Regions from separate parts of the Homo sapiens genome. Here region 2 is linked to region 1. The links come from fine-mapping of genetic effects on gene expression. Tissue or cell type: blood mononuclear cells. Region 1 holds a variant in brackets; the other region holds the start of a gene. All regions are shown on one strand. Distances are between the middles of the regions.

Region 1 (11,425 bases):
CAAATATACATATAACATTTAAAATACCTTGTTGAGGACAGGTTTTGTTGACAGGACATCATACATGGTTTCAAATGAGATATTCTAAAACACAAGAAAATAGTTTTGTTCAGTAAGTTAAATACAGAAGCCAACAGCCTTATCTACACACATGGGCCACCAGAAACCAAGACATTCTTTAATCAACCTCCCCTCCATCCCCGCAGTGGAGTTTCTGTGGGAGTCACTGTTAGAAACACAGGTAACAGTTTTAATGGATTACTTTCCTCTCTCTCCTTCCCCTTTTTTAAATTCTTGCCTGTTTGTTATTCAACTTCAGAGTGGTATCCAGCATTAGAACCAGAAAAGGAAAGTACAGCACAATTTTGCTCTTTAAGTTAAGAAAACGAAACAAAAAAATCAGTGGAGAGTGGCTAGAGATACTATGAAAAATAGGACGTTTATAAATTACTTGAAGGCCAAAGAAAAATGCCAGAACCAAGGGAATCTTTAATGGCAACAGTTTCTTTCTATAGATGACCCTGCAAAGGTACCTCTTGGCTGGTGCGGTTCAGACACATCTTTGCAGGCGTTCTGCGATCATCAAGGAAGAAGGGATGTTTCCAACGGTCATAATTTGTTTGTACCACATACCATCTACCCTGCTTAGCATCGAGTCTAGATACAAAAGGAGAGATTCCCTCTTAGGCTACATGCCTTAAAACTCAAAGTATATCAGTGTATGCTTTTGTTTCTACTTCTTTTGCTTTAACAAACCTACTTACTCATATACATCCAATGATTCCTTTCTGTCTCGTGTAATCACACAACCTTCCCCAGACTGGTTGCCTCCCAGGATAAAGTAGGCTGGGGCCAATATCTTGGTCTTGGTCAATAAATTCTTGGCTTCTTCATAACTATATAGAAACATTTAAAAAGAAAAATGAAACTTTTTTTTAATTTTAGTAAATAACTTCATTTATTTTTAAATTTTACTTTAAGTTCTGGGACACATGTGCTGAACGTGCAGGTTTGTTACATAGGTACACACGTGCCATGGTGGTTTGCTGCACCCATCAACCCATCATCTAAGTTTCAAGCCCTACATGCATTAGGTATTTGTCCTAATGCTCTCCCTCCCCTTTCACCCCACCCCCTGACAGGCCCTGGTGCGTGATGTTCCCCTCCCTGTGTTCACGTGTTCTCTTTGTTCAGCTCTCACTTATGAGTGAGAACATGCAGTGTTCGGTTTTCTGTTCCTGTGTTAGTTTGCTGAGGATGATGGTGGGAAACATTTTTAGATGACTTAGAACGGAAATGTTTAGCTCTGTAGAAACTAAAGAAAAACAAGTATCTAAGGAATGTGTTATTTATTTATTTCTATTTTTAGAGATGGGCTCTCACTCTGTTGCCCAGGCTGGTCTCGAACTCCTTGGCACAAGCGATACTCTTGCCTTCGCCTCCCAAAGTACTGGGATTACAGGCATGAGCCACCATGGCCAGCCACAATGTGTTTTCTAAAAAAGGATGGTGAGCAATGCCTCTGGGAAAAGCAATCCCTGACCCTGTATGGTGAACACTGAGATGGGAAGCGGGAATCTTAGGAAGCCCCTCTAATCTGAAGGAGAAACAAAGTGGCCTCAAGAGATCATCTTCCACCCTTACTGTCCATGCCTTTCACTCAACAACAGAACAAAGGGAAATAATATTACAGTATGTAGGACTTAGAGAACAGAAAGTAAACCTTCTTGAAAATTAGGACTATTAAAAATTGAAGTGGGTTATCAAAGAACACTACTAACATTAAATCTTATTCCCTGGGAAGTATTAAAAATAGGATTGATGCCCATTTATTTGGACGCAGTGCTGGCTGAATGAAGGAAAGGCAGTTTTGCTATTGTAAGATTTCTATACCAAGGCAAGATATAACTTACAGGTTAATATGTAGTACATTTTGTATTTATTTATTTTGTTTTTTTAAGACAGAGTCTCACTCTATCACTCAGGGTGAAGTGCAGTGGACTGATCCCAGCTCACTGCAGTCTCGACCTCCTTGGGCTCAGGTGATCCTCCCACCTCAGCCTCCTGAGTAGCTGGGACTACAGGCAGGCACGTGTCACCATGCCTGGCTAATTTTTGTATTTTTTATAGAGACGGGGTTTCGCCATGTTGCTCAGACTGGTCTCAAACCCCTGGGTGCAAGTCATCTGTCTATCTCAGCCACCCAAAGCGTGAGGATTACAGGCATAAGCCACTGTGCCTGGTCTGTACTACCATTTAAATGAAGATTTTACTGTATGACTGTTCTTTTGTGTGTGGGTCATTTTTTTTCTGTACACCAAAAATATTCATAGGTGCCTTTCATAATGTCAGTATCCCTAGTGCTTTTTAAGTAATTCATTTATTTGCTATAAAACACACAGTCTGCACGAAGAAAACATGAGTAATTCCACATGAGTGTCAGAGGTTCACCTAAGAAATTCTGCAATAGTTCCTCAAAGGATTAAGCTGGAGCTTGACAAATATTTTTATTTTTTAATATGAGTAATTTAAAATAAATATTTAATAGTAAAGCAACGAAACACTTTACCTTGTGCTATTTTCCAGAACTGTTCTAGTGAGGAACCCTATCCACATGACATCTTTCTTTCCCAGAATCCATTCTAGAATACCTGGAAGAGATGAACACAATGTCAGGAACCGGAAGAGGTGACACTATGTAACCAGTCAGGACCCGGAAGAGGCTGGACTATATAACCAGTCAGGAACCAGAAGAGGTTAGACTTTGTAACCAGTCGGGAACCGGAAGAGGTTGGACTTTGTAACCAGAAGGCACAGTCCAGCCTTCCTCATAAAAAAGCTCTGAGATTCCCATTTCACTTGAGAATGCTCTACTTACCCAGATAACCACCATTTATACTGAAACGTTCATTCAGTGTAAGACTGAACAGTCCCTGAGAAAAAGACAAAGCAACGAAGTCAGAAACATCAACCATGCGCTTTAAGGCCCTGTCGCTCACTGTACTTCAGAGTGGGATATAAAGGCCTAGCTTGGGTAATGGGGAAGGCAAAAATAAATCAAAACCATAAAAGGCTTTTTAAAAAGTTCAAAGCATTTTTGATTCTAGTATGTGAGATAAGTAGGTGGGGTATCACTGGCAACGCTTTTTGGACAGGAAACTGAAGGGCAGAGAATGAACGCCTGACTTGCCTAAGTGAGCGGAAGACCCAGGACTAGAAATCAGATTGTGACTCCCAGCCCTTGACACCCAGCCACATGCTCTTTATCCCAGAAGAGGCTCAGAAACCTCCGTTTCCTTTCTACTCTTCTCTACCACGAGATCTCATACCTATGAAGTGACAAGAAGTACAAGGGGGTGAAATGGGGCTTCATATTCCCTTTAGGTCCTCATATTCTTAGATTTCAACTTTTACATAACGGTAACAGGACAGAAGGCTACCTGTATAATTATGTAACAACAGACTCCTTACTGGTTTGAATCCTGTTAACATGCCCACATAGCCAGCAAAGCTTGAAGCCTTGAAGACAGTTTTGTTGTTTCTTTGGAAATCCAAATTCACTGTTAAAGGTTTTAGTTGCTCAGTTATGACCCAGGTATCATTATTTATGTTCCACCTATAAAAGACATGTTTCAGTGACATTTCAGAAACACAGTGATAGTAATGATCAACATGATGATGAGGGCCAGGCATTACACTAGGAGCTTTATTTACCGAGTCACCACGATCAATCCTAACAAGACCTTTACAATATGGTATATTTATTCTGTTTTCCAAATGATAAAATTGAGGTTCAGAGAAGTCAGGTAACTCTCTCAATATCACACAGCTTATAAATAGTGAGCCTCAGATTCAAACATAGAATGCTAATTACAATATTCTTATTTTTTCAGAAAGGTCAAGATGGACACATAAAATAGAAGAGCATGTCCCTCTTGTCTCAGCACTCAAGCAATCCATTTATCTTCACTTATGATCACATTTTGGGTGTGACTTGGGACTTACTTATCATCAATATAACACAACCTACTCTTCCTACAGACCAAAACAGTTCTGTGTTCTTTTTTTTTTTTTTTTTTTTGAGATGGAGTCTGGCTCTGTATCCCAAGCTGCAGTGCAGTGGCGCGATCTCGGCTCACTGCAACCTCCGCCTCGCAGGTTCAAAAAAGTCTCTGCCTCAGGCTCCCAAGTAGCCGGGATTACAGATGCCCACCACCATGCCTGGCTAATTTTTATGTTTTTAGTAGAGACGGGGTTTCACCATCTTGGCCAGGCTGGTCTTGAACTCCTGACCTCGTGATCCACCCGTGTCAGCCTCCCAAAAAGCTGGGATTACAGGCGTGAACCACCATGCCTGACCCTTTGTTCTTTACTTACCCAAGAAATACTCCAAAATCCATGTTTCTCCCATGTATTAGATGACCTATTTGAAGGTAGACAGAAGAGACGTGTAATAGCAGTTAAGATTCTAAATCAAAGCTGGACAATTAATTTTGATTAATT[A/T]ATTTATTTTTGAGACAGAGTCTCGTTCTGTTGGCCAGACTGGAGTGCAGTGGTGCGATCTCAGCTCACTGCGACCTCTGCCTCCCAGGTTCAAGCAATTCTTGTGCCTCAGCCTTCCACGTAGTTGGGATTACAGACATGTGCGACCGCACCTGGCTACTTTTTTTTTTTTTTTGTATTTTTCTTTTAGTAGAGAAGGGGTTTTACCATGTTGGCCAGTCTGGTGTCAAACTCCCAACCTCAGATGATTCGCCCGCCTCGGCCTCGCAAAGTGCTGGCATTACAGGTGTAAGCCACTGTGCCTGGCCTCTAATTTTGATTAATTTTTATTCACAACTGTTTCTTCAAACAATAAGAAGTAAGAAACATCCTAATATCCTAAGCCTTCACCAGATGGGACTGTTGTCACCGTCTATCTGCCAGATAACCCCACAAAATCTGAGAGCACGGGTTTCCAGGTAAGATCAGAATATGGGAAAAGGAATCAATGGTCATGTTTTGGTTCACTATCACATGGTTCTACCAGGACACAGAAATCGGAGCCTCAATTACTGTGATTCATCAAATGTTTCCCTTCAGGCATCATCCCCTAGAGCAGGACATCTCAAGGGTAAGGTACAGGCAGATTTATACCCAGAGTATAGGTCAAAGATCAGGGTGAGTTAGCGAAGTTGTCCTGTGCTTTGTACTCTGGGAACCAGTCAGGAAAAATACGGGAAAGTGAGGCTGGTATCCATTGGGTTGCCTGGCTGGGAAAGGATGGGAGAATGTGTGTTCTGGGCCTCAAGAAAAGGACAGATGTCATGACATACACGAAGATAAGGAAGCACCTCCTGCGAGCACTTCCATCAAAGCATGTAGATGGGTAGAAGTAAACTATGAGGAAGAGAAGAATGTTTCTAGCCCTGCAACATTTCTTCCAGGTTTTTTGCATGTCTGAAATCAACTTTAATAGGCAGTACAGTAGTCTGAAAATAAGGAAAATTTTCAGTACAATCACAAAATTTTACCAAGAAATAAAAAGCTGTATGCAACATACACAGAATTTACATAGCAAGCCCAAATTTCAGAAGTTCTAATTTCATTTAGAAGATTTTTCTTTATGTAGTGCTTCATGCTGCCCACCCTCCCTCAGCGCACAATTACCTTTTTTGTCTTCTGCTACTATTGAAGTACAAATGGTAAATAATTCATAAAAAATATTGAATGAAATAATCTCTCCTATGAGAAAAGAAAATTTTGTGTTAATATACAGAACCATGACAATGGGAGAAAAATTTGTTTTAAGAAAAAGTTTCAGTGTTTTCATTGTGTGAGTGTGTGCTTTGGCCAGTGGGGCTGTGCTGGAACGGCCGGCTGGAGGTGGTTTTCTTCCCCAGCCTGGACTCTCTAGACTCAAGATGAAACAAGTCACCAAGGAGGCAGCCTTCGGGCGAGCTGAACATCTGGGCAGGTTGCAATTGTTCTCCAACATCACATCCAAAATGTTTATCAACATGCTTCATTTTGAATTTTCTTTTGGGAGCGTAAATATGATCATTTAATACATCTGGCTCTTGGCTGTTTGCTGGACATATATTTTGCCCAGATTTTTAAAGTGTGACTAAAATTTCTAAGGTGAAAAAGGAGATTCAAGAACTATTAAAATTAGTACAGAGCTGCCAAGAAACTCCATTCTAGGGTATTTTATTTTTTGAATATTTTCCCAAAATGTATAATACTGCTATTTAGCATTTAATTCAAAAGTAGGCAGCACATTGTATTTCTGTCCCATTTAACATTAACATGTTAAGCTCAACATGTTTTTTTCACCCAAATCCAATGTGTATTTTATTTCCATTAAATTTCTAATTTGGTGAAATTCTAGTTATTTTATTATACATTTATAATAATTTATAATAATTATATAAATTTACACCACTTATACATCATGTTATTCTTCTTAATCCATAAGGTATTTCTATTTGGTATTGAGTTGCTAGAGTTCTTTACATAATAAAGGAATTAGACTTGCTTTCCATAAAGGCAGCAAGTACATATTTCCAGTATGCTATCTTTTAAATGAGTTTTTTAAAGAAGCAGCACACAAAACTAGCCACTTTTGTTGATAAATACTACTGATTTTCACAAATTCTCAATCATCTCATAAAATGAAGGTACTGTTGGCTATTTAAAATAATGACACTACTGCTTTGCTAGCTTAAAGATAAAACTTTTGGGGTCGTGGGGAAAATATTTTTCGTTACATGCCATAAAGCTTAAATTGAAATTTTAAAAATAGCTTCCCAAACCATCAATATCTAAGAATAATTTTAACGAATGGCATGTGAGGTCTTCTCCCTGAAAATAAAAGATACTGCTCAGAGAAATCAGTAACTTAAATAAATATTGAGAAAAACAAAGTTGGAAGAATTATACCACCTAATTTGAAGACTTACTATAAAGCTTTAGTAACTGAGGTGAAATAGTATTGATATAAGGGAAGACAAAAAGACAAATATGTAAATGAAACTTAATTCCCCAAACAAAACAACATATATACAATCACCTGATTGTATATACAGATACACATTGTGTGTGTGTGTGTGTGTGTGTGTGTGTATATATATATGTATTGTATATTTATATCAAAGACACCACTGCAATTTGCTGAGGAAAGGATAGCCTTTTGAATTGATGCTGTTTAACTAACTGGATATACCACATGAGAAAAACCTGAAGCTTGACCCATAAGTCATAGCATATACAAAAATAATTCAAAATAGATGATAGGCCTAAATGTAAAAAGTAAACATTAAACATCTAGAAGAAAATATATAAGCATATATATATGACTTTGGGGTAGGCCAAGATTCCTTAAATGGATACAAAAGGCACTACTCATAAAAGAGAAGACTGAGATATTAGACTTCACTAAAATTAAAAATTTCTGTTCATCAAAAGACAAAAGTAAGAGAATAAAAATGAAGGTCATAGACTGGGAGCAGATATTCAGAATCCATATATCTGACAAAGGGCTTATATTCAAAGTATGTAAAAAATTCCTTCAATCTAATTTTTAAAAGGGCAAAAGACCTTCACAAGCCCTTCTCCAAAAGAAACAAAGAAAACCAAAAAAAAAAAAAAAAAGTCAATAAACTGTTCAATCTCATTAATCATCAAGGAAATGCAAATTGAAACTAAAATGCGATACTGCGACACTCAACAAAAAGGCTCAAATAAAGATTGACACTAACAAAAAAAAAGGAAAAAAAAAGACTGACACTATCGAGAGGAGAATTATCAAGAGGAGAAAACTGAAACTCTCATACTCTGCTGATTGTCAACTGCTGGAATCACTTTGGAAAACTGTTTGGCAGAATCTATAAGGCTAAACACACAATTACTCTATAACACAACAGTTCACTTCCTAGGTATATATCCAGAAAATGAGTACCCAGACACCCCCAAAATGTACTACAATATTTATAATTCCTTTATTGTTAATATCACAAATCTGAAAACCACCCAAATACCCTGTTGATACAATAGCACACCACCCATAATGAAATACAAGAAATCACACAGGACAGTTCATATTGTTCAGTTCTATTTATACAAAGTTCACGAAGAGGCAAAACTAATCTATAGTGACATCAGAATAGTGTTTACTGGAGGAGGCAGTATTTTCTGCAAAGGGGCATGATGGAGCATCGTGGAGTGCTGGGCTCTTCCGTATCTTGATCTGAGTCATGGCTACATGCATGCATGCATTTCTGAAGCTTCACTGAGCTGTATATCTAAGACCTGTGCACCTGTGCTGTATATCTAAGACATACAGCACCTGTGCTGTATGTATATCACACCTCAATGGAAACTTGTAAAAGAATTTAATTACTTTTTTTTTTAAAGCTTCTAAGTGAACTTTACCTAAAGGTATATCAGTAACAGCGGCAATACCCTTCATTTCCTCTTCAAAAGGGCCAGGAAAGTTGCCAAGTAGGCCAGGCTGGAAAACAAATATATTAATAAAAGCATTTAACATAATAACAATAAAAAATATATAATATAATATAAACAAATATAATAAAAGCATGCTTTGAAATCTAGTTCTTGGACATATAATTTTTTCTAGATACTGCTATCATAATAAGTGATAGGAATTATTTTTTAAAGCATTTTTACATCATGTAGTTATAAAAAGATTCTATGTAATACTGAATATTGGGCCCCTATACAGAGACCAGATTCTCAGATTGTTTTTCCTGCCTTATTTTTCCATCATTCTCCAGAGAAGGCAGGAACGAGAGTAATTCCACTTGGATGACCTAACCTGACCCACACCACAAAAACATCATAACAAGCACTCCTTATCTCTCTGCACGAATTCACCCTCTAGCCACTGGCATATACCGTTCTTACCATTTCCTTCCCACACTCACAGAGATAAACCTGCACTATTCTATCCATAGCCCTGTGTCATGGTTAATGGCTGATCTTCAGCTAAGATGAAGTAACTGCATTCTTTTAGCAAACCAGAGACATTGAGCAAATTCAGTGGTGGACATCATATATTTATTCTCAATGGCAACTACTAACATCCAGATCACAACTTAAGTTCACGGCCTTTTGCTGAGATAATCTGCTTAAAATTCACGAATCTCACTTTTTTAACCAACTTGGTAATTACATGTAATGTCACCTAAACATATTTTTTTTCTCCCTAGGAACTCAAAGCATTCCCCAAGTGGAATGTTCCAGCCATTTAACAAACAAATGTGACGTAATGGGTATTTATTAAACACTTATTACATCCAAGCACTATGCTTTATACACAGTATGTCATTTAACCCTTACAACCACCATATGAAATATATATTAGTAATTATTATTCTCCCTGATGAGAAAACTGAGGTTTCATAGGTTAAGAAACTTTCCCTAGGACACAAGGCTAGTATGTGACTGATCCAGCCTTAAAACCCAGTATTGTCCGATTCCAAGGCGTGGCACAAAAACTCTCTGCAATGTTGCCCTCCCTGATAACATTCAGAGTAGAGGGGAGATTAAGGCATACGGGGAACGTGGGGGCCTCATCCTCTTTTGCTCCTGCCAGCATTTTTTTGTTTTGAGGAAGTCCGGTAAGTATGAACATAAAGGATAGCCTGAAACAAAAGCTCCGAGAGCATGCACGTGAGGGATAATGGGTTTGGTGCTTGGCAGGTACAAGTGTCATAGGGAGGATGTGGCCACAGCACTCAGCCGCTAGGGCAATGATTCTCGACCACGGGAGATTTGGTAACATCTAAGGACATTTTTGGTTGTCACAACTGAGGGGGTGTTACCAGCATCCAGTGGGTAAGGGCCAGGGACACTGCTAAACATCCTGCAATGCACATGACAGCCCCACAAAAAAGAGACACCCACCCCAGGCCGGGCATCCTGAGCTGCTAAACATCCTGCAATGCACATGACAGCCCCACAAAAAAGAGACACCCACCCCAGGCCGGGCATCCTGGAATGTAGACAAGCCCACGACAAAGAAATATCCAACCCAGGCCGGGCATGGCGGTTCACACCTACGATCCCAACACTTTGGGAGAACACTTTGGGAGGTTGAGGCGGGAAGATCGCCTGAGCCCAGGAGTTGGGAGACCAGCCTGGGTGACACAGCAAGCCTCCGTCTCTACTAAAAATTCAGAAAAGTAGCTGGGTGTGGCGGCACGTGACTGTAGTCCCAGCTACTCAGGAGGCTGAGGCAGAAGGATCCCTTGAGCCTGGGAGATCAAGGCAGCTGTGAGCTATGATCATGCCAGTGCACTCCAGCCTGGGCTACAGAGTGAGATGAGGTCTCAAAAAAAAAAAAAAAAAAAAAGCTGCCCAACCCCAAATGTCATTAATGCCCAAAATCTGCCATCAAGAGCAATGAGGATCCCTTTAACAGTTCTAGGGGCCAGGCCCTAGGTGTTTCATTGGTTCTGCGTCAACAAAAACGGGGCTGAGAAATGGAGTCTTCCTGCATGATGAGGATGAAAATGAAATGGTTTGGTGATTGCACAGAAACACTCAGCCCAAATGAGTTTCAGGGTCAGAGCTACTGAGGAACTCTACAGAATAAGGGGCCAGGCTGAGTATGTCATTTGCTCATATCTACAAAAAAAAAATCTCTGGATGTCCCTGAGACACTTAAGAAAAAAAACCAAGTCTTCAATAGTGAACTCACTACATAAAGGGAAGGAAATACCACACTCCCAGATGAAATATGGTTATTTGCCCAATGTCGTAATGTAGTCCCATCCCCTTTTACGAAACCATAATTTGCTATGCTGTAACCCTAATATTACCAATTCCCCAAATTTAAGTCCCTCTGAAGTTCTGACAGTGAGCTAGATTCATGCAGATTTGCCCAAGTCCCTGCGAAGAGGTTGCTGAATTATGCCTTTAAATAAATAACAGCGCATTTTCTATGTGCTTAACATTTATTGTGAGAAATAATATCTCTTACCAATTTTTCATCCACCACCTGCATAATTTTTCCACTTGGCACGAATGTATTTATCATATTCTTCAGAGAATTCACTATAACCTTTAGCTGAAAAATAAATAAAATGCTTACTAAAAGACATAATGAAATGCTGTCAAGATTACCTTTTGGCTTACCCATATGTAGCTAAAAGAGAGTGCTATTTGACAATTTATATATATATTTTTTAAAACAGCATCTCGCTCTGTCACCCAGGCTGGAGTGCAGTAGCACCATCTCGGCTCACTGCAATCTCTGCCTCCCAGGTTCAAGCGATTCTCCTGCCTCAGCCTCCCAAGTAGCTGAGATTACAAGTGTGCATCACCATTCCCAGCTAATTTTTGTATTTTTTTTTTTAAGACGGAGTTTTGCTCTTGTCGCCCAGGCCGGAGTGCAATGGCACGATCTCTGCTCACCGCAACC
Region 2 (15,883 bases), 20 kb after region 1:
GACTCTGCGCTCCTTGAGGTGAGGACGGCCCCCAACACTGACGTCACTGCCTGAGACAAGGAATGAACAGACTCTTTTAGGGGAAGTTGTCCAAGCTTAGTGGCAAAATGGAACCTTCTCCTAAACTTATCAAAAAAAGTCCACACAGATTTATGATTCTTTTGTTACTCATTCAACATATCAAGTGTCTTTATCTCCTTTCCTCTGGAGAACCAGTTCTGTGAAAGTAAAATAATTGTTTTAAAAAAGTACAAATCCAAAATAAGATAAAGTAGAGTAGGTAAGAAAACTCTTGGAACTGTAGCTTGAGCTCAGAAAACTCTTGGAACTGTAGCTTGAGCTCAGAAAACTCCTGGAACTGTAGCTTGAGCTCAGAAAACTCCTGGAACTGTAGCTTGAGCACAGAAAATGTATCTGCTGGACAGCTGTGTAAGAATGGAGGTCTAGCACCTTGTTTTAACTTTTGATAACATGGGGAATATATAAAGTAGGTTGACATTACCTGTGATTCAAACATTAGCTGTCAAATTTGCCTTACCACACTGTAAGTTTCTCACATATGTCTGGCTTTGTCTGGTAATTTTGCGTTGAATTCATTAAGAAACAATATCAAGTCTGTAGCAAAAGCTAATTTCCAAAGCCATTCGTGTTCAGTAATAGTGGCTGGGGGCAGCTCGTTTAGAAAAACTTCAGTCTCAACTGTGAACTCAAAGACTGCAAAACTTTACAGCTAGCAAGCTATCTAATGGCTCTGTCACAAGAGACATCAGGATATCCGGCCTCTATTTCTGATAATTCACAGAAATGATGACGGTTATATCCACAAGAGCAAATGAAGCTCATGGTTTATATTGCCGGTTCAATAACACATGTGAGATTCCAATATTTTCCACAAAATATCTGAAAAGGAATACTATAATAAATAACCATGAGCTTTAAACACCTCGCATGTTCACAAGTTTTGTGAATTTGCTCAACTCCGCCTTTTTCTACTCACAAATATTTTTACTACTGTCAATTTTTATAGATCTTAGCAGATTCCATTCCAGGTTATACTCAATCATTATTTTCTCAGCTTCTTCGAAAACATCCTCGCCTGTAGTTGTTTTATACAGATGATTCAGAGGCTAACTCTTCAGTCACTTCAAACTTGGCAATGATCATCTAATAAATATCAACAACTGATCAGTTATCGGTATGTTGACAGTCAAGAAAAATCACTCAAAAATCACATGCTTTGTTCTTTAATTGATATTGATGTTCTTCCCAAAGTCCAGGACAAGGGTTCTCAATGACATGTAAAATAATTTCATTTTCCCTGGACACAATACTTCTGCTACTACAATCGAATACAATTTAGGTAATCCACCATTGGTAAATGGCTTTCCTTATTTTGCTAATAAATGAGCTACTTAGAGACTTATAGGGGTTGCAACTTAATTTTACTTTGTAAAATTTGTAAATAAGTTCTGCTGTGAGGAGATACTCCGCTTTACATTTTCTTGTTTATCTGACCATTGTTTTCCTATGAGTTGGGAATACTGTGATGGGTACTTAACCCAAGTGCTTAATTTTATGATCATGTTGTGGACTTAAGACCCTGCTCCATTAGTGACTTGTAGAAAGTTACACAGCTGGTGACAGAATCAGAGTCAATGGCTTTCCCTGTTCTATCAAACAGCTTCCCACAGAGATAATAAAACCAATGCCTCAATTTAATTCCTAACAGAATAATCTGCGCGTAGTTCAGGGCTTCTGGTGATCACTAGAATCAACTCGGCAAATTAAGTGAAACGTAATGACTCCTATCCCTTCCTAATAATGACATTTGCACGCCCTGGGTTCCAAAGCCAAAATAAACATCAAATTACAGGCACATTTCTTACTAGACAACTGTGAGCAAAGTTGAAAATGCTCTGTCTAGTATTAGGAGAGAATGTGACCTGCCCCAGAGGTAAGAACTAAAGAGCAAGCTAGCAACAATACATGTGGAGTGAGTCTGAGGTTGATAACGACTCTTGGTAGCAATAAACAAACGTGAAATTGGCATAGAACCTGGCTGCAAGGAAATAGGATAAGTGTGACAGAAAATAAGAAAGTTGGCAGCTATGAGACTACAGTATTTCAGGGGCTCACATGGCATGAACGCCTAAGTCGTTTATGCAAAAAGGTTAGTTTTAGGGGTAGGGTGGAAAAAAGAGCTACTTCCTCCCCCTCAAAAAAGAATTCTACAGGGAGACACAGCTTCAAAACCCACGAGTAGCCCTAAAACAGAATTATAATGAACTTACTTAATGTTATTTAAAGTTCCTTACTATCCCCAAGTTTATAAACAGTTTAATAACAGACAACTCTATTAAGGCAGGTAAAAACTTAAATAGATGATAGGTAAAGATTAGAAACAGATGATAAGAAGAGAGATTATGTGGTCTGGATGGTATACTATGTACACCCTATCACAGGAAACAAAATCCAACTTAGAATCAATTCTCTCTAACCCTCTCCCCACAGTACCTCTCTTTCTCTCTCTCTCCCTGCCCTTCCCTACCTTTCTCCCTGCCCCTCAGTGGTCTCCTAAGAGTGAAGATAAGTGGTAAAAATCTGATATTTCAATGCATTTGAAACTCTCTGGGCCAGGCATGGTGGCTCATGCCTGTAATTCCAGCACCTTGGGAGGCTGAGGTGGGTGGATCACCTGAGGTCAGGACTTCAAGACCAGCCTGGCCAACATGGCGAAATCCCCGTTACTACTAACAATGCAAAAATTAGCTGGGTGGCATGTGCCTGTAATCCTAGGTACTCGGAAGGCTGAGGTAGGAGAATTGCCTGAAGCCGGGAGGTGGAAGTTGCAGTGAGACGAGATAGTGTGACTGCACTCCAGCCTGGGAGACAGAGCAAGACTCCATCTCAGAAAAAAAAAAAAAACAAAAAACTCTCTGGAAAGTGCTTTTAAAAGACTGTTTGGGTCAGAAAATTCTCTAATTTTTCTGGTTATTTGATAGAAACTTAAGCCTCTTTGAATGTCCTCCCCATTCATTAAGAGAAATTAATTACAGAGCTACTGAACACAACATTCTAAAAAAAACACAAAAATATAAAGAGAACATTAAGGTCTCAATGAAAGCGCCATACCCTTAAAAAATGGCATAACTTGTACAGCTCCTTAAAATATTTGAGCCCGAAAGAATTAGGAGACCCTCAATGAAATAATGTATGCTTCTAATAGTGAATTTTAAAAGTCCAGAAAGCCCTTGTGTGCTTGTCTTATTGAAATACTCAGAAAGAGACAATGAAGGATAATCTAAAATTACATACCTCATGTCAGTTTTCATACCCACCAGAAGCCAAACAACTCTAGCCAGACAATTTTTCATTCATTCAATTCTTGAATTCATCAACAACTATTTTGCAGACAAGTTTTTCCTATAATGTCCTCTTATGTACAACTCAGCAGAAACACTGAATACAAAGAGGCATGTTTCCTACGTGTACAAGAATTCACATGAGCTTGAAAATGTTTTCACTTGTCTTCTGGGCTTTGATGGGATGGCATCCTATTAAGCTACTGATATTTAGGTCAAAGGAATGTGAATAAACCCTCCATGAGAGGAAGGACCTCATCTATCTCATTGGCTGACGCATTCCCAGCGTTTAGGAGTCTGGCACATAGTAGGCAAGCAGTATTTGTTGAATAAGTGAATGGATTACACCTGTGTGTTCCCTCTTTGGGAGAAGTAGGGAAAAGCAGATGAAGTGCAATAAATTCCTAGGCCAGATGGGGTCTATGAGATTTCTGGCAACTGCGTGAAAATCATTGCTAAAGCTGATTCAATAGCTAATGTCAACAATGTTGACATACGCTGTTAACTAGTATGAGAAGCTGATGCATAAAAATGAGTTTACAAGTTTACTTTGGCAATTAATTACTAAGCCATTACGTTTCATCTTCGCACATCTTATGAAGTGGGTCAGATTTATTACGCAGAGCAGCCATCTCTCCCCTCTAGTTCCTTTCCTGCCAATCACACTTAGCCTACCGCAAGCTGTTTTCTGCCCCCAACACTGCTCCAGTCGAGGTGACCAATGACCTCCAGTTGCCCAACATCATAATACCACTGACATCTCAATAATATTCAACATAGTTAACCTGTCCCAGTCTCTTCCCTGAGCTTCCTGTTCCACTTACTCTCCTATTTTTTTGTTTTTGTTTTCTGTGACGAAGTTTCGCTCATTGTCCAGGCTGGAGTGCAATGGCAGGATCTTGGCTCACTGCAACCTCTCCCTCCCAGGTTCAAGCAATTCTCCCGCCTCAGCCTCCTGAGTAGCTGGGACTACAGGCGTGAGCCACTATGCCCAGCTAATTTTTGTATTTTTAGTAGAGACAGGGTTTCTCCATGTTGGCCAGGCTAGTCTCAAACTCCTGACCTCACGTGATCTGCCCACCTTGGCCTCCCAAAGTGCTGGGATTACAGGCATGAGCCACCGCGCCCGGCCTGTCCTGTTTTAACTTTGGCAATTTCTCCTCTTCTTGACACATACATGTGCAAGTTACTTAGCCTTTGCCTAGTTCTCTTTTCTTCTCTTTCTCTATCCTATTTCTAGGTAAGTTCATCTGCTCCAAGGGCTTCAAATATAATATCATTATGCCAGTGACTCTCAGTGTCTCTCTTCTGAGTGCCAGTCCGAGTGGCCTGCTGGATGCCTCTCTGCCACCTGAAATTTAACATACACCCCAAATGAAAACGATCCTCATTCTTTAGCCCCCAAGCTTTCCCCTCCCCATGTTTCCTGGAACGGATGCCACCATTCGCCCAGCGAAGCACTTCAGCAATGTGCAGGTCACGCTGACACCTCACTCCCTCATCCTCACCCAACGATTCCTTCAGCTCATTCGCCCTCCTGATTTTTTTCTAGAACATCTACTTCTCTCCCTCACCCCTGGCGCCACCATCCTTCAACGCACCCTGTTTTCTTTTCTGGACTAGTCTCCTCATATCTACCCTTGCTGACCTCCAATCCAGACTCATCTTTTTAAAGTGAAAATGTTATCTTGTCTAAAACCATCTAATGGCCTCCCATTGGCTGGTTCCAGATCCTCCCATTTTTTAGGATAAATTTCTGAATCCTTAATAAGAGTCTACAGAACCCTGGATGATGTCATCTGGCGCTATCTCTCCAGACATTTCTTGTGCCACTGTCTTCACCATCATCTCTTAATAGACTCCTAAAAAATTCAATAATGAAGAATAACTCAGGAGGACCTTCACATAGGAATATTGTGAAAAGCCTCAAAAACAAACACACAAAAAATCCTTACAGATGTTCTAAATCAAATGACTTGTTTCCAATTTAAAGCTGCTTCTCATTATTCATATTTATTGAAAGTACTTTTGAAATATCTTTTGTTACCATGAGGCTATAGTTTATCATATAATGACTCCAGTTGAAAAACTGCTTATTCTTCTCAGAGAATGAAGTCACTAAACTTCTGTAAGGTTCTAAAGGTCCTTCAGTGCATGGATCCCAGGATTTTCCAGGCCAGTAAAAAAAAATTAATGAGGCCTTGGCACAGGAGGGTCCAAATTTTTATTCTGCCAAATGGAGATGTTAAAACAAAACAAATTCCATGCACATAACATCTACCTCTGCCGTTATTTTTAAGAACACGTTTGCAACAATGAAAACTTGAAGTCCATACAATCAGAGTAAAGATTAACATTCTAAATTAATAATTTTAGTTTTGCATTCTTATTTTTCCAGTTTCATTGAAAACCTGTGAAAACAGCTTCCCAAAGTGACACCAGTGGCCAGACTAGACTTTGATAATCGCTGTTCTAGATAAGAACTATTATATCCATTGAGAGGTTGTTAATTCTTCTTCTGAAAATAGCTATCAAAATACTTTTGCTAGAATAAATAAAGCTATTGAGAAAGAAGAAAAAACAGCCTCCAACACCTGAAACTGCTCTGAGTCCCACAGCTATCTCTCAATATTATTACAAGCCGATCTGACACTCACAGCCAGGTAAGCTCTGTTTTCCTCCTGGACATCAACAATCCCACAGATACCTACGTCGGATAAGATTATTCTGAGACATGACACACCAAGACAAAGCAATGCCACTTGAAGATTTTCTCTAAGAACAGACAAAAACAAGGGCACCTGCAACGCACAAAACACCAAACATCCCCTTCTCGTGCTAAACAGAATGGCTGTTCCTTCTTTACTCAGTCAGAATTGCCCCACCTTCTAACAGCATTCTATCTACAGCAAAGCCCGGTTCCTCAGTCTTACCCCAAATCATGCAACCGAAGTTCAAATTCTGTAATGGGTTTTTTTCTATAACCTACCGTCCGTCGCTCATGGTGTGTGGTCTCCTTTGCCTCAAAGAACACTAAACCCAATTTGTTCAGCTTATGGTGTGTTCCTGGTGGTCTTTCAATGAAGGGCCCTGACAGTATCAAAGTATCAAAGTCTCTCCCAATTCCCATAAAACCAACTACCGTCAAGCAAATTAATTCCCTACCCACAATGGAGCAATTTTATTTTAAGGCCTTTAATCGTGTCCACATACATGTTCTGTGTATTTTCCTATTACAGGAAAAACTGTATATACTATTCTGGATTCTACTTTTATCTGCTGAACATTATATCAATTTTAATGGCTAAATCATATCCCACCATGATTTTAAAGAATTTCTCCTTACAGGTATAAAAGAAGACAATGCACATCTTGCTTCCACTTTCAATAACCTACCTAAACTATTCAAGACCATCACCATCTAGCCTCAGGCCAGATGCGCCAGGTTCCTACTTATCCGATTCTGTTGGCAAAGACAAACGCAGTCTGATTGCTTTATAAAGAAATGAATTATGAAAGAGTACTGGGCGTCAAGAGGCTCGGACGTTACGCATGTTCAGTAAACAACAGTGTAACCTCTGGCTAAATATTTTCTCACTCTAGGTCTACTTCCTCTTCTGTAAAATGAAAGAGTCACGCTCGTCCCTCACTGTCTCTTGCAGTTAGGAAGTCCGTAGCCCTGTGACTTGCTCGTGGGAAAGAGCCACGGGACAGGCGATCCCATGACTTGGGTGCAAAAGGCCACAGGGGGCCCTTTGGGGCCTGCTCTGGGCTGCTCGCACCGCCCAAGCTTGGGACCACTCAGCGTTTCCCACGGCCCTGCAGTATCCTGGGCTGAACTCCTGAACTTCTTCGGGAGAAAGCACCTGACCATCAGGCAGTCTGTCCTTGATTGAGTAATGCACACAGGTCCACCGGAACATTTTATTTAAACACTTCAAAATGCAAGGGCCTGGAACTGGTTATTCAAGTACACTCACTCAAATCTAAGAATGTGCGAATCACACCCAGGTATCCTGCAGAGACTAGGATTTCCTTTAAAGGAGTTCTAGTTGCAGGTAGCACCGAATCTACCGAGGACGGGGTTCGCCAGCCCGCTCTGCACCCACACCCCTGTGCACGAAACCACAGACCCCCGTAAAGAAGCTGCCCAGCACGAGGTGTTCCTTGTACCCGCTCGCGCCGCCACACCTGCGCCTCCATCCGCGCCCGCACCTGCACGCCCCTCTCTGCGCCTCGGCTCAAGCTCACTCACCGGCGGCGCGTGCTGCGCGACGGCACAGCTGACGGCGGCAGCCAGGAGGACTAAGGCGACGCAACTCCGGCCCGGCATCGCTCTAGCAGCCAACGCCACTCCCCGGACTCCAGCAGAGGCAAAGAAGAGCCGGCTGGGCCGGGGGCAGGCCACGCCCCCTCCGCCGCGTGACCCGCGACCTGGGACCGCACCATTCCAGGCAGTAGGGGGAACGCTCGGAGGAGGCGGGACTGGGAGGAGAGGACGGGGCTTTTCAGTGCCACGAAAAGGGTGGCGTAGAGAAAGAGAGAGAGCCTTCCAGGCTACCTGCAGAAGGAGAGTCGCGATCGCCTTTGGCGCGTGGCGTGATCCATCCCCCTCCCCCACCGCGGGCAATAGTCGGACCGAGCCGGAGCCCCGCCCCGTAGGTGGGGCCGGGAGCTTCACCCGTGGCGCCTCGATGGGGCGCCTCTAGCAGGCGGGTGCAGCCTGTCCCGCGTACCCAGGCGTCCTCGGTACCCACGAAACGGATCCAAAGAGTCTCAACACTAATGTAACATCCCACCCTGACCCATCTTTGCCCTCTGAGAAAAGCGGCCCGAAATGAGTTGAGTTATTCATCCCCACCGCGGAGTCAGGGACAAGGAGCAGTTGAGTGGCCGAGGAGTGAGAGAGAATCGAATCCACTCGGGTCCTCCAAGCTGTTGGTTACCCACTTGGGCTTTCACAGCAAAGCTGCCAAATCCCAGAATTGAGGCCTCGGTGAAAAGCGCGCTGAGACTTGGGTAGGAGGCCCGGTGGGACCCGCGAGCTTTCTCTCCCAGCCCGATGCAGCAGTTCATTAAGCGGCTGTGTTTCCTCCTAACTGGCGAAGGACTCAGGTGGGCGGAGCAGAGCTCAGCTTGGGAGGAGGCGGACGCGAGTAGCTCGGCAGGGGGACTCGCTTGGCTTTCGTGCCATCCGTGGACACAGTCGCGCGGGTAGGTGACCGGGTTGGATTTCAAAGTCCAGCAGGAAATCCTGCCCTCTGGGTTGCACTTCCTGGATGAGCCTCTGACGTCTCAAGCAGCATTGTTTTAATGCTTTGATGAAGCTCAGCACGCTGCCGAAATCTCGGCAGTATTTTTTCTTTTCTTTTTGCATGTGAGAGAAAGGACAACAAATTGCAGTTTTATCCATTTGTATTATTTCTTTAGAAAACTCAACACTCTTTTTGTTGGAGGTGGGGAAATGAGAAGGTGATGTTTTGTTTTGCTTTTTTTCCTATTTTTTTTTTTTAAAGGAGGAGAAGATGACAGTGTTCTCCCTAAGGATGAAGTTTGACTTTTGAAACATATCACATGCTTAAAGCACATTTGAGCTCCTGCATGAACAGTAAGCTAGCAGATGGTAGAAATATTCTTTATTAATTCAAAAAATATTTACTGCGGACCTACAATGTGCCAAGCATGTCTCCTGACACTGGGGATAAGCAGTGAACAACAACAAAAAGACAAACTTCTTCCACCCTGAGGCGTATGTTCTCGGTGAGAAATGGGCAATAAACATAATACCTAAGAAAATTATACGGGATGTTAGTGACAAATGCAGTGGAGGAAAAGGGAGGCCAGGGGCATCAAGTGTGGAGATCAGAAGTGGTAGAGTTACAATTTTAAATAAGAGGGACAGATAGACATGATTAAGGAGGTGAAGTTTGAGCAGACAGTTGAGGGAGACCAGGAAGCTAGTTTTGTGTGTGCCCAAGTAAGAGTATTCTAGGCAGAGACAGCAGCTGTTAAAAGGCTTTAAATGGAGAATGTGCCTGGCATGTTCAATTACAGCAGACGTGTGTGGGTCTGGCACAGAAAGAACAAGGGGAAAAGAAGAAAGAAGTATTAATAGACAAAGTATTTAGTTAAGGAGAGCAGGGCAAATTCTGTAAGGCATTCAGAGCCATTTCACTCCGGAAAAAAAATGTGTAATATTGAATATACGTGTTAAATGTTGAATCTATGGAATTACCTTGGAGCTTAAAATGAGTGTGCGAAGAAGAGGATTCCCATCTTTTAGTTGTTATTACTAAATCAAATAGCTACTTGATTGGAAGATCATTCATCTTCAGTACTCTTGAGAGCGATTTAAACATGTCACCAAGCATATTTTTTTCCCTACTGGAGGATGTTAATTGGTGATTAGGTAGTCTAGCAAAATCAGATTCTTTATGGAAAAAATTTGTCAATTGACATACTATTCTTAGGCACCACTTTCGCAGAACTATGCGTCTAACTTTCAAAGGTCTATTATATATTATTAATACTCTTTTCAGATAAAATATAAATCTAGTTCCCTAAAATTAAACCATTTCATGCATGTCTTTTTTTTCTTACACATATATCTTTATTTTGCCTACACCATTCTTTAATACTAGAAATGTACAGAAAGTCAAGGCAAGGTGTGTGTAGGAGACTTTGCAGTGGTTTTTGGCATACTGATCTGTTCATAGAAAATGGTATTTAAATGTGCAAATGCATGATTATGTCCACGGAAAGGGTGGTTCATACTGCACAAAAGCATCAAGTTTAAGACTTGGATAACCTGTTTCGTGTGCAAGAGTCGGGATATGTAATCAGATTGTTTATGGAATAGCTGAAGTTCTTGGCAAGCTGTGGACTTCCTCATCTCCTACCTAACATTCCTAGGTTCCTGAGGTGGAGCCTTGATTTAAAAGGGTTGCAACTTAGCCACCCCACCCTAAATGAAACCTATCATGTATAACATCACATTACCTGGAACAGGTTTGACTTGATTTAGTAAAACCGAATATACAAAAACGTGTACTAAAAGGTCAAGAGATAGAGAAATAATGTTTCAGTTTGAGAAATAAACATTTTTTTAACTTTAAATATTGACTTTTTTATGAATAAGGAAGCTTTTTATTTTACAGGTCTTTGTGGGAAGAAACAAATCACAAAAGCAATTAAGAGAGCTCAAACAATGGGTAAGAAAGAGCACCTCAACAACTGTATTGAGCTAGCTGAAATTTTGCTCATTATGCTTTGTCAAGAACTTTAATTATCTCTTTACAGGGTTTATGCCAGTTACATACAAGGATCCTGCATATTTCAGGGACCCTAAAGTTTATAACATCAGATATCCGGAATAAATTCCATCACATTACCACCAGTAAACTTATTTTATAGTAAGTGGTTGTATGACGCCAATACTGACTCAAACCAACCTTTGGATAGAAAAGTGTTTCAGGAGTGAGGTAAAGAATGACACTTCCCCTTCATACCAATCAGTGTTCATTAAGCAGATCGCTTATTTAAAATGTTAACACTCATCACATTTTACATATGTTGAATGAAAGTGGTTCTGGGTGATAGTCATTTATATCTGGTCCACAAATAGCTCATACAATGTAGTACACCATTCAACTGAATGGAGTTAAAACTGCTCAGAATGGTTTTCTAACTAGCAAATGTAAGTATGCCTGGTTAAGAGATCTTCCCTTTGTAGGAATGTTACACTGGGATGCATAGTGATGCTGTCACAGCAGGACAAAACATTCCTAGACAACTCTATCCTCAAACCAGTAGTGTCTTTTACATAAAAAGATGATTTACACCTAATAGACAGTGAATGTGATAGACATGTATGTATATATGTATCAGTTCTGAGTTCCACCAGCCTATCCCAAACACACTGGATTACCAGGCTTGTACTGTACTCAAAATTAAGGATTTGCTAAATTTCGTGCAAAGGACTCTAAACTAGGGGAGAGATTATTGTTTGTGTTGCGTTATAGTTGTGTAATAATTAAGGCTGCCAGATTTAGCAAGTACAAATGTAGGACAAATTTAAATTTTAGATCATGTTTTGCAAAGGTACTGCGTGAGATCCAGCATTTTATCTGGCAACACTAGCTGTAATGTACTTCTAAAAAATTATCACCTAAGGATAATTTTAATGACTCAGATAAATTTCATATAAATTTCTTTCCACATTGTGAAAATAAGGCTATTCTAGCTTTTCTAATACTTTTTTTTTTTTTTTAATAGAGATGGGTCTCACTGTGTTGCCCAGGCTGGTCTCTAACTCCTGGCCTCAATCATTCCTGCCTTGTCTTCCCTAAGTGCTGGGATTACAGCTGTGAGCCACTGTGCCTGGCCTCACTTTTCCAATTCTAAAGAATGTGTGTAAGCCTTTCCCTCAACAACTTATTGAAAGGCGAAAAAAGGTTTGGAAATAAAAGGATCTGATGTTTGAAAAAGTACTTTGTAAAATAAATGCACTAAGACTTATCTGTGGATTACTGCAAAGAGGTGAATATAGTAAAAACAAATGAACTTACCTGTATTACTGCAAGTAGCTCAACCTAGTAAAAACAATGGAAATGTTTGACTTTACCCATCAGCCAAATTAAAAAAATCTCCTTTTAAGGTTAAAAGGATCAAAATGTAGGTGACCGTGAATATTCACCAAAACCTTCATCTTTTCAATCTCTTCATCTGTTTCTGGGCTGCTCATTTTGGATGCTTTTTTATTGGTTACTACTATCAGTATCTGTTTTAGATGGTTTGTCTTGTGTGTCTAACAGCCGTGAACACTCTTTTTTTTTTTTTTTTTTCTCCTGAGTCGAAGTATTCCTCTGTAGCCCAGGCTGGAGTGCAGTGGCAGGATCTCAGCTCACTGCAAGCTCCGCCTTCTGGGTTCACACCATTCTCCTGCCTCAGCCTCCCAAGCAGCTGGGACTACAGGCACCTGCCACCACGCCGGGCTAATTTTTTGTATTTTAATAGAGACAGGGTTTCACCATGTTAGCCAGGATGGTCTCTGTCTCCTGACCTCCTGATCCGCCCACCTTGGCCTCCCAAAGTGCTGGGATTATAGTCGTGAGCCACCGCGCCCAGCCAATTTTTTTGTATTAGAGATGGGGTTTCACTGTGTTAGCCAGGATGGTCTCGATCTCCTGACCTCGTGATCCGTCCGCCGTCATCTCTTGAACTGCCATCTGTCAGCTAAGTCTAAGGTTTTATGCTTAACCATTTGTGGTGTACTAGCTGGACTAGCTTCAGGAATGTCAGTGTTTTCTACCATTAAGGTCAGATTGTCTACTACATCGAGATGGTGGTGGTTGTTAGAGCTACCTTTAGAAACATGTCTGTTTTTTTAAAGACATAACACATGCATGAAGAATTCAGAATCTGGAAAAAAGGTCCATAATGTTTGACAAAGAAAAATGTTCTCCTGAGGGTCTTTTTTGGATGCTCTTCTCTCGTTCTGCTGGAATCTGGGCTCATCTCCTTTTTTCAATTTCTCGTTTTAATCTGTTTACATCCTTTACTAGTTTATCTACTGCTTGTTCACTGTCTTCCACTTTTTTGCATATACTCTTTAATTTCTCTTACAATGAAGCATACATTTCATTTATCTTATGTACCTCCTTTAAGGATCCATCTTCTTCAAAAAATTTAGAGCTGTGTGTTTGTACTGCTCGGCTAAAACCAGTGGACATACAGGAACCTGATACAGTTTTATAACCTAGTTGTTCAGACATGCCCAGATTGGCAACCACTGAAGGTACCCTGTGAAAAAGTCCTTTTCGAGGTTTATATAAGGCATGTTCCAGTCGATGAGTAGAGCGGCTTTCTGTTATTATACTTGGTGTTCATAGCAGAAAAACCAGGTCTTGGTTTGAAAAATGCTCCTGCAAGTTTTTGTGAAGCAGCCTCTCTCTAAATGTCATGATCTGATCTGAATGACGATGGAATTTGTAACAACCTACCACATTTTTTGTGAATTTGATAATATTTTCCTCAGTGCCTGCTTATTTACTTCACCTGAAGAATTATAAAAACTAAAAAACTGATAGCATGGAATATATTTCTGAATGTCAATTGTATAAACAACTTCAGCATCATCTATTTGGGAATCAGTAATGCTATTCTTTTTTTTTTTTTTTTGAGATGGAGTCTAGCTCTGTCACCCAAGTTGGAGTGAGGTGGCCCGATCTTGGCTCACTGCAACCTCTGCCTCCCGGATTCAAGCAATTTTCCTGCCTCAGCCTCCCAAGTAGCTGGGATTACAGGCGCCCACCACCATGCCCAGCTAATTTTTTGTATTTTTAGTAGAGACGAGGTTTCACCATGTCAGCCAGGCTGGTCTCGAACTCCTGACCTCAGGTGATCCACCCGCCTCAGCCTCCCAAAGTGCTGGGGTTACAGGCGTGAGCCACCATGCTTGGCCTTGTCTTCTCCCTTCTAATATGAAAGAGGAAGCTAGGAATCCCCATTGCTGCTGGCATGCATGCTATAAACCTGAAGGGAGCCACCTAAGATGAAATTGATACTGTGGACTACACAGTAGAAAGATGGAAAGAAACTGGGTCATTGATGACATTGTCAAGATGCTAGATCAACCAACCACAGATCCTGTCCAACAACTGGACTCTTGATTTACATCAGCCACTACTCTGTTATTGAATCTTGGACAAGTTGGTTTGCTTACAAGTTAAATTATTGTATCTGAGAGCATCCTAACTGATACACACATGAAAATAGACATTTCTCCTTTGTTGAGAAGGATGTACAACAAATCTATGAACTTTAAGTTTTAGTACCTTCACTTGCTCATGCCCCTTCCCAACCTTTTACTAAATTTTATGCTTGTAATTTTGTATTCTTTTCCTTAAGGAGGACCACTTAAATTGCATAAGATTCAGGTGTCACCAAACCTGGATCTAGCATCAGATGTTGTTGGAAGAAAATGTCCACCTTTCTCTGCCGTCTCCTCCATTCATGTCTCCCTAGGGAAGGAGAGATGTATGATGTATCTAATCAGTAAATAGTTGAAAAGGTCACAGAACGTGCGTGGCCTGGCCTCTCTTCTGGCGCTTTCATTCAGATCTGCCTCCCCACAGTAGTAGATATGCCTGCCCACACTGGTAATTCTACTGCAGCAAGCCTTGAATGACAACAGTGGACGTGAAAGTAGTTGCTGCCTTTGACCACATCTTCCCAAAGTGGCACGTCACCAACAGACTTTAAAATCATGACGTTATAACGTAATGGCTGTGAAGATTTGGAAGAAAGCACTCTAAAATGAGAGCTCTGAGAGATGTAGAGAGAAGGCAGTCAAGGAATAGCGCCTATAAGCACCTCCTGCACATCCGGTCCCTGCGCCTCCATCCTCACCCTGCCCTCAGCTCACTCCCCTCCTGTTAGAAATTGGCTGTGCCCCTGAAAAGTCATTTGCATTTGCCTAAAGACTGAGTACACAAGCTCATTCCAAAGTAGAAGGTGTTGAAGTTCCATTTTGGCCTCAGGTCAAAATTGTTTTCTCTATTTCAGCTTAATGAGCAAGAAAGCAGAATCTAATATGTGTATATTTCTAACGCCTGTGTATATTTCTCAACTGTTTCCCAGCTCAGAAAGGTGAGGAGTATGACAGTCACCCTGAAATGACAACAGAAGCCAACAATAACAATTATAGTAATAATGTGTGTATAGAAAGTACTAAATGACCATTAAATGAAGAGCAGATTACTAGGTGCTATGGAAGATACACATGCAGTGAAATACAAATTCCAGATCTCAGGGAGTTTGCAACCGAAAAAGAATATAACACTAATATATATACAAGGGGACTTCAAAACGTTCACCTGCACCCTCCACCTCCCAGGTTCAAAGATGGAGTTAAAGGATAAAAAGTATAAACTTTATTTCTTTTTTTTTTTTTTTTTGTGAGATGGAGTCTCCCTCTGTCGCCCAGGCTGGAGTGCAGTGGTGCAATCTCGGCTCACTGCAAGCTCCCCCTCCCAGGTTCACGCCATTCTCCTGCCTCAGCCTCCTGTCATAAGCACCATCAAGGTCAAGACACTTTTGTCAGGGATGATACCAGCCATTTAGTCCATCCTTAAAAAAAAGAGGGTCCTGGGAATTTAACCATGTCAATGCAGTCTTTATTAACTGAAGAAAAATGGGTGCCCTTTACAGATTTTTTAAGATTAGGAAACAAAAAGAAGTCAGAAAGATTTCCTGTGGAAGCTCTTGCAAAATTGCCCTTGTTTGATGAGAGGAATGGGCAGGAGCATTGTCATGGTGAAGAAGGACTCTCTGGTGAATCTCCTGGGCATTTTTCTGATAAGGCTTTGGCTTTCTCAAAATACTCTAATAATAAGGAGATGTTGTCATTTTTTGGCCCTCCAGAAAATCAACAAGCGAAATGCCTTGAGCATCAAAAAGAAATGTTGCCATGATCTTTGCTCTTGACTGCTTTGTTTGTTTGTTTTTGGAGACAGAGTCTT

Evidence for each region.
Region 2: ASAH1 starts here. The variant in region 1 is fine-mapped to the expression of ASAH1 in blood mononuclear cells (TOPMed, PIP 0.99).

Annotation. Positions count from the first base shown.
Region 1 is chr8:18,058,808-18,070,232 of GRCh38, forward strand. It overlaps ASAH1 (N-acylsphingosine amidohydrolase 1), which reads right to left. Exons shown (of 14, transcript NM_177924.5): 4 at 10,985-11,071; 5 at 8,413-8,491; 6 at 5,650-5,724; 7 at 4,378-4,423; 8 at 3,472-3,616; 9 at 2,879-2,933; 10 at 2,570-2,651; 11 at 765-896; 12 at 534-657; 13 at 28-84. Among named protein-coding and RNA genes, the nearest start is that of ASAH1, 20 kb to the right of the region's middle. The variant A/T (reference allele first, on the strand shown) is at 4,504.
Region 2 is chr8:18,076,364-18,092,246 of GRCh38, forward strand. ASAH1 (N-acylsphingosine amidohydrolase 1) reads right to left here and starts at 7,744. Exons shown (of 14, transcript NM_177924.5): 1 at 7,618-7,744. The coding sequence starts at 7,695. It overlaps ASAH1-AS1 (ASAH1 antisense RNA 1), which reads left to right and starts at 8,505. Exons shown (of 5, transcript NR_125429.1): 1 at 8,505-8,576; 2 at 8,879-9,122; 3 at 10,520-10,573; 4 at 10,662-10,774. It also overlaps the pseudogene MRPS18CP3 and the pseudogene ABRAXAS1P2. RefSeq lists enhancers at 7,201-7,310, 8,111-8,390, 8,191-8,726 and a silencer at 7,661-7,860.